2 linked regions of the Homo sapiens genome follow. The protein of the gene in region 2 purifies or fractionates together with the protein of the main gene of each other region. This does not show direct contact. Each region holds a gene or a part of one and is shown on either strand. Other genes may lie near its edges.

Region 1 (3,489 bases), on a different chromosome or scaffold from region 2:
TGAGGCCACAAGAAATGATCAAGAAACAAAAGGCTGCGGCAGTTATCACTGCAGTTCCTATGAACTGGTTTAAATCAGCAATGAGGTATTTGTATTTTGTATTGCATTACTCCCATTAAGTTAAACCTCAATTAACTAGAACCTTTGTTCCAAAATGGTGTTGACAGCCAGGCGTGGTGGCTCACGCCTGTAATCAATCCCAGCACTCTGGGAGGCCAAGGCAGCTGAGGTCAGGAGTTCGAGACCAGCCTGGCCAACATAGTGAAACCCCATCTCTACTAAAAATACAAAAATTAGCTGGGCGTGGTGGTGGGCACCTGTAATCCCAGCTACTCTGGAGGCTGAGGCCGCATAATAGCTTGAATCCAGGAGGTGGAGGATGCAGTGAGCCGAGATTGCACCACTGCCCTCCAGCCTTGGCAACAGAGCGAGGCTTCATCTCAAAAAACAAACAAAAAACAAATCAAAATTCTGTTTATATTCACTTTTAGAAGAAAAAGGCAAATGACATAAAAGAGTTTTTTTTATATATATATATATTTATTTATTTTTAAAAACTCCAGGGGATGTCCCAAAGTTAGTAAACAGTTCTGTTTCTTGTCCCTTTTATGGCTGCATGCAGTTTCAATTGTTCAGTACAACAGATGAGGCATTTAAAAGGTCTCCAACGTCAAGAAACACTAACTCATCTCTGGCATATCATATTTTTTAAGGCAGAAGTATTTTCTGTAATGGTTACTACAGAGTGTTTACTGGTTAATTTTTAGTTAACCAGAACCACACATCCCATAGATAATTCCATTTAACTGAGGTTTATATCCGTAAGAGCATTACCATAGAAAAATTTCCCTTTAGCAATTTCAAGAGACCTCAGCCACCAATATACCTACCTTCTTTACAATATAAAGTGAAATATTACTTTAGATGAAAATTTTTTGTATCTTACTTAGAAAAAATTAAGTTGATATTTAAAAGAATTTTGATTTTTAATCACCTTCCACAACGATTTGATATACCTTAAACTCCACTTTCATTTTTTATAAGAGAATCACTTTCAAGGGAAAAAAATGGATGTTACTATATTTTAAAATCTGCTTTATAAAAAAGTGTATAAATATCAATCTGCCAGATATACTTCCTATCCCCAACACAGCTGTAACACTGACTAATGGGGTCATGACCATGAAGCAAATTTTACTTCCTAAATAGAAATGTGTAGGTGGCAGAAAGCGTATTTTTCAGCAGGAGTGATTCTGTTGGATCTCTTTACAATGTCAGAGCAGTTGTTAGAAATGTTAGTATTTTATTCGGTTTCTTGCTGTGAAGGATTATCACAATGTTGAAGTGATGGCTGTTCACCCAGTCGTCATCACCGTCATCATCTCAATCTTGGGAATCATCAGCAGTGTCCCCCACACAGAGAGACAGGTATAGTGGTGCAGTTTAGTGACAGGGAATCCAGTCTTAGATCCTGTTTATATCACATTTTTGTGAATTTACACAAAATTCCATTTATAGCTTTAAAACTGTACTACATAACACATTACTATACTACTACAAAATATCCTTCTCTATAAATGCACTGAATATTTTCTTGGGCATTTTATTAGGCCTTTTTTAGCATTATTACAAATGCTAACAACAAGATACTTCAAACCACCAAATATAAAGTCAGCTTCTTAATTTTCTGAAATTTAGTTATTTGAGTTAATAAGAATTCTGTAGGAATACTGACCCATCTCTTTTCATCCAACCTTCAAAATAGTTAAGCCTATTTGCCCATCTCACCTAACCTTCAAAATAGTTAAAACAAAAACAAACCCAAACTAGCTATATATAACAAGAATCTTTCAATTCCCAAACTATTGAAAGACCCTAAGTCAGCCAATCTATGAAATTATACAAGATGAAGGTGAAAAAGCTGTGCTTTTTTTTAAACCATTAAACCCAGTTCTTTTCTCTTAAAGTTGTAAGAAAATGGAAAATCTGTTTTTAAATCATGCAAAGATTTAAATAAGCATTTTTCTATCTGCTCTAAGAAACTGTTTCTTATCTTACAATTTTAAATATTCATAACACTCAAACTACTTTTTTGTGGCCATTTATGTTTTTGACACTAGATTGTATGGTATTATTTAGCCAAGATGTATTATAATGCTAAATTATGTATAAAATATGATTTCTGGAATTTGTCCATCTTCTATTGAAGTGCCATTATTATTGCCAGGGGAACTAAAAAAGAAAAAAACAGTCTTGCTTGCAGCAGGTGTCTCATGCACTACTTTCTTCAATCCTTTTGTGCCATAGTGGGAATCTGGACCCTAAATGAGAACAAAAGGTTCCTTAGTAATTTTCATTTAATAAGCACTCAGTTTAATGTGGTGTTTTAATTAGATTAATGTTCCATTATATTTCACTATCATTCCTATATAAAATTTTATGCTGTCATTTAGAGAAAAATGAAGTTTTTACCAAAAAACTAATTAATGAATAAAAATACTGAATGTACAGCCCAGCTATTAGAGAATAGTGAAAAGATTTTACAAAAATAACTTTTATTTTCTGCCAAACATTCAACTGCTTACTGAAACAAAGGGCTACTTCTTAAGAAGAGCTATTTCTTTCAGAACAGAGCTGTGGGGAGAAGTACTTCTTTTCGGAAGGCAGTGGAATATTTTAGCTCCCAGCTTCTTTTCCCCCCTCTTTATAAATGGCTCAGCTGTCAGTGACTCTCAGCTTCTAAAACACACATTCTGCAACATTCAAGAGGAAACCATCTGGAACATAGTGCATGACTCTTACTTTGAGTGTTGCACATGCTGTGTAGCACACATTGGGCAGGATCTCTATGGGTTCCTTGAACATGACCCTGAATGTGTTAGCTGTCCCATCACAACTAAAGCCGGTATCATTCTGTCCCAGGGTTTGCTTTTTCTCATATTCAATGATCTGTAATTTTTAAGAGACAAGTTACATTTAAGTTAAACCAAATAAAGCAAACTATAGAAAATAATATAAAGCCCTTAGCAATGTGTGCGTGTGTGTTTTGAGACAGACTCTCACTCTGTTGCCTAGCCTTGGGGGTGGGGGGGTGGGGGGTGGTGTGTGTGTGTGTGTGTTTGAGACAGACTCTCTCACTCTGTTGGTGGGTGTGTGTGTGTGTGTGTTTTTGAGACAGACTCTCTCACTCTGTTGCCTAGCCTGGGGTGCAGTGTTGGGGTCTCGGCTCACTGAAACCTCCACTTCCCAAGCTGAAGCAATTTTCGTGCCTCAGCCTCCTGAGTAGCTGGGATTACAGATGTGCGCGACCACACCTGGCTAATTTTTTTGTATTTTTAGTAGAGACAGGGTTTCATCATGTTGGCCAGGCTGATCTCCAACTCTTGGTCTCAAGCGATCTGCCCACCTCAGCCTCCCAAAGTGCTGGTGTGAGCCACTGCGCCCAGCCCTAATTTTTCATTTTTTTTGTAGAGATGGGATCGTGTTCTG
Region 2 (3,824 bases):
ATCCCCATGCACTTTGTACCAATGCTCTTGAGCCTCAGCACATGTTGGCTTAGGGGTATTCAGGGCGCAGAGGAAACCAGTCAGATGGTCCTTTTTTTTTTATTTTTCCAGAACTCAGGATTAACTGAAATCTACCACTTCCTGATGATAGGGGCTATCAGGGCTCAATGCCACAGCCTAACCTCTCCCTGCAGCCCCTATACATAAGTTGCCACTACAGGCATCGCCGAGGCCCCAGGTTCCTGAGCTTTCTTAGCCTTGCTCTGCTAAGTTTTGACAAAACTTTTTTTTTTTTTTTTTTTTTAAAGACAGAGCCTTACTCTGTGCCCAGGTTGGAGTGCAGTGGTGCTATCTCGGCTCACTGTAACCTCCGCCTCCCGGGTTCAAGCAATTCTCATGTGTCAGCCTCCTGAGTAGCTGGGATTACAAGTGTCCACCACCATGTCCAGTTAATTTTTTTAGTAGAGATGGGGATTCACCATGTTGGCCAGGCTGGTCTTGAACTCCTGGCCTCAAGTGATCCGCCCACCCTGGCCTCCCAAAGTGTTGGGATTACAGGCACAAACGACCGCTCCCGGCCTTTTTTTTTTTTTTTTTTTGAGACAGTGTCGCTCTCATTCTGTCACCCATTCTGTAATACAGTGGCATGATCATAGCTCACTGCAGCCAGAACTCCTGAGCTCAAGCAATCCTCCTGCCTCAGTCTCCAGAATAGCTGGGACCACAGGTGTTCCCCACACCCAGCTTTTTTTGAGACGGAGTCTCGCGCTGTCACCCAGGCTGGAGTACAGTGGCACGATCTCGGCTCACTGCAACCTCCACCTCCTGGGTTCAGGCAATTCTCATGCCTCAGCCTCCCAAGTAGCTAGGATTACAGGCACCATCACCATGCCCTGCCCAGCTAATTTTTTTTTTTTTTGAGACTGAGTCTTGCTCTGTCGCCCAGGCTGGAGTGCAGTGGCACCATCTCGGCTCACTGCAAGCTCCACCTCCCAGGTTCACGCCATTCTCCTGCCTCAGCCTCCCGAGTAGCTGGGACTACAGGCACCTGCCATCACGCCGGGCTAATTTTTTTGTATTTTTAGTAGAGGTGGGGTCTCACCGTGTTAGCCAGGATGGTCTTGATCTCCTGACCTCGTGATCCGCCCACCTCGGCCTCCCAAAGTGCTGGGATTACAGGCATGAGCTACCGCGCCCGGCCCATGCCCAGCTAATTTTTTGTATTTTTAGTAGAGATGGGGTTTCACCATGTTGGCTGGGCTGGTCTCGAACTCCTGACCTCATGATTTGCCTGCCTCAGCCTCCCAAAGTGCTAGGATTACAGGTGTGAGCCACCGTGCCTGGACTTTTTTTTTTTTTTTTTTTTTAGAGATAGGATATCGGTCAGGCGTGATGGCTCATGCCTGTAATTCCAGCACTTTGGGAGGCCGAGGCTGGCAGATCGTTTGAGCTCATGTGTTTGAGACCAGCCTGGGCAACATGGCAAAACTCCATCTCTACTAAAAAAAAAAAAATACAAAAATTAGCTGGGCACGATGACGTCCACCTGTAGTCCCAGCTACTCGGGAGGCTGAGGTGGGAGGATGACTTGAGCCCGAGAGGTTGCAGTGAGCCGAAATTGTATCACTGCACTCCAGTCTGGGCGACAGAGTCAGACCTTGTCTCAAAAAAAAAAAAAAAAAAGAAGAAAAAAAGAGATGGGGGTCTCACTACATCCATTAGGCTGGTCTTGAACTCCTGGTCCTAAGCAATCCTCCCACCTCAGCCTCCCAAAGTGTTGGAATTACAGACCATACCCAAACTCTTTTCTTGGTTCTTTCCACCTCTTCCTGCCTCTCTTGACAGTACAGTATTGCTCAGGAGAACCCAGGGTAGCAGCAGGTGTACGGAAGCCCTGTCTGCATGACCAGGCACCCTGCAGCAAGCACGTGCACTTGGGAACACAGACCATGAATAAGGGCACCCTTTACAGCCTAACTAGGCCATTTCTTTTTGGCCCTACAGGGGATTTGGAGAAGGAGAAACAAAGACTCCAAAATATCTTTGCCACAGGGAAGGACATGGAGGAACGGAAAAGAAAGGCCCCTCCTGCACGACAGAAGGCTCCAGCCCCTGAGCTAGACCGATTTGAAGAGCGTAAGACTCCGACGGACCAGTCATGCTGGGGGTGGGGGTAATGTGAGGAGGGGGCCCAGAATTGGATGGAGCAGTCAGGGGATCCCTGAGGGCCAAGGGCCAACAAGTGAGAAACACTATTTATTTATTTATTTATTTATTTTGAGACAGTCTTGCTCTTATTGCCCAGGCTAGAGTGCAGTGGCGTGATCTGGGCTCACTGCAGCCTCCACTTCCCAGGTTCAAGCAATCCCTCCTGCCTCAGCCACCTGAGTAGCTGGGATTACCAGCGCCCGCCACCATGCCTGGCTAATTTTTGTATTTTTAGTAGACACGGGGTTTCACCATGTTGGTCAGGCTGGTCTCGAACTCCTGACCTCGTGATCCACCTGCCTTGGCCTCCCAAAGTGCTGGGATTATAGGCGTGAGCCACCGCGCCCGGCCTAGAAACACTATTTGACAATAGAACCACTTCCTCTCCTCAAGAGAGGCAACCCGCTGCCTGCATCCCTCATGGGAACCTGACAGCCCTCTCCTCTGTCCAGTGGTGAAGGAAATCCAGGAGAGGAAAGAATTCCTGGCTGACATGGAGGCCCTGGGACAGGGCAAACAGTACCGAGGAATCATCCTTGCTGAAATCTCCCAGGTAGGAGAAACAACCAGGAAAGTGGGGAGGGGAAGGGCCCAGCGCCAAGTGCGAATGGAAATACAGGGTCTGCTGTGGCAGGGTTCAGGGGTCAGGCTCTAGCTCACTGCTGTGACAGCTCCTCAGGTTCCTAGCCCTGATACACCTGCTTTCCCTGATGCCCTTTGCAGAAACTCCGGGAAATGGAAGACATTGACCACAGAAGGAGTGAGGAACTTAGGAAGGGTCTTGCCACCACTTAATCTGTCTCCAGAGACGGGCAGGGTAGCCCAAGCTCGACCACTGGAGTCCACTCCTCTGCCAGGCAGGGCCATCCTCAGGCCAGCCCATCCTACCAGCCTTCTGCCACGTCAGGTGGTGGCATAGCACTGCCCTGCAGTACCCCAAGGCATACTCAGCAGCCTAGCCCCTGCCCCGGAATGCAGATGGAGCCTCTGAGACTCACAGCCCCGTCCGCAGAGAAGCAAAGCCCGAGCATCCCTACTAGGACATGTGTCTAAAGGTATCCACTGGGCCTGCTTCCCACCACTTCTGACCTGTGGCCTGTTCATTTAGTTTTCTGAATTCAGGAATGAATATGATTCCTTTCTTCCTGTTTTAGGATTTACTTATTTGATTTCTTACCGCCTTAGGCAAGTATTCAACCACAATGATTAACTGGCCAATAAAACATATTTAACGTGGGTCATTACAAGCACCATTTTGTTTTCAGAGGGATAAGCTTATTTGTTCAAGGCATTAGACTTTGTCAAGCCCAGATGGTTTCTAGCTACCTGTTTGCATATTTCAAGTGGCAACGGGAACCAACCTCTTGGGCACCCCATGGCTGGCTGCTGTGGCGGGTGCTGAATTCCACTCTGTTAATGATCTCAATAAACCTCTGCAACGGTTCATTATCCCTCTGTGAAAACTAAGTCTCAACAAGATACCACAACCAAGGGCATTTACCTGGCAAGCAGTGCATTCAGGATTAAAAGTTGGCTTTAGCTTTATGTCTTTCCACTATACCCATGGCCACAGAAAGAAACATGAAAAGGTGGGAGCGACCTAGAGCCCTGGCCTG

Evidence for each region.
Region 1: the proteins of C22orf23 (region 2) and BTBD1 purify together in Homo sapiens (affinity purification with mass spectrometry; one large-scale study listed by BioGRID and IntAct). This does not show direct contact.

The regions. Positions count from the first base shown.
Region 1 is NC_000015.10:83,015,905-83,019,393, forward strand, and holds the end of BTBD1 (BTB/POZ domain-containing protein 1), read right to left. Parts: intron 2,950-3,489; coding exon 2,803-2,949; intron 2,322-2,802; coding exon 2,163-2,321; 3' UTR 519-2,162; downstream 1-518.
Region 2 is NC_000022.11:37,943,354-37,947,177, reverse strand, and holds part of C22orf23 (UPF0193 protein EVG1), read left to right. Parts: intron 1-2,004; coding exon 2,005-2,136; intron 2,137-2,660; coding exon 2,661-2,761; coding exon of another isoform or gene 2,762-2,863; exon of another isoform or gene 2,864-2,931; coding exon 2,932-3,003; 3' UTR 3,004-3,824.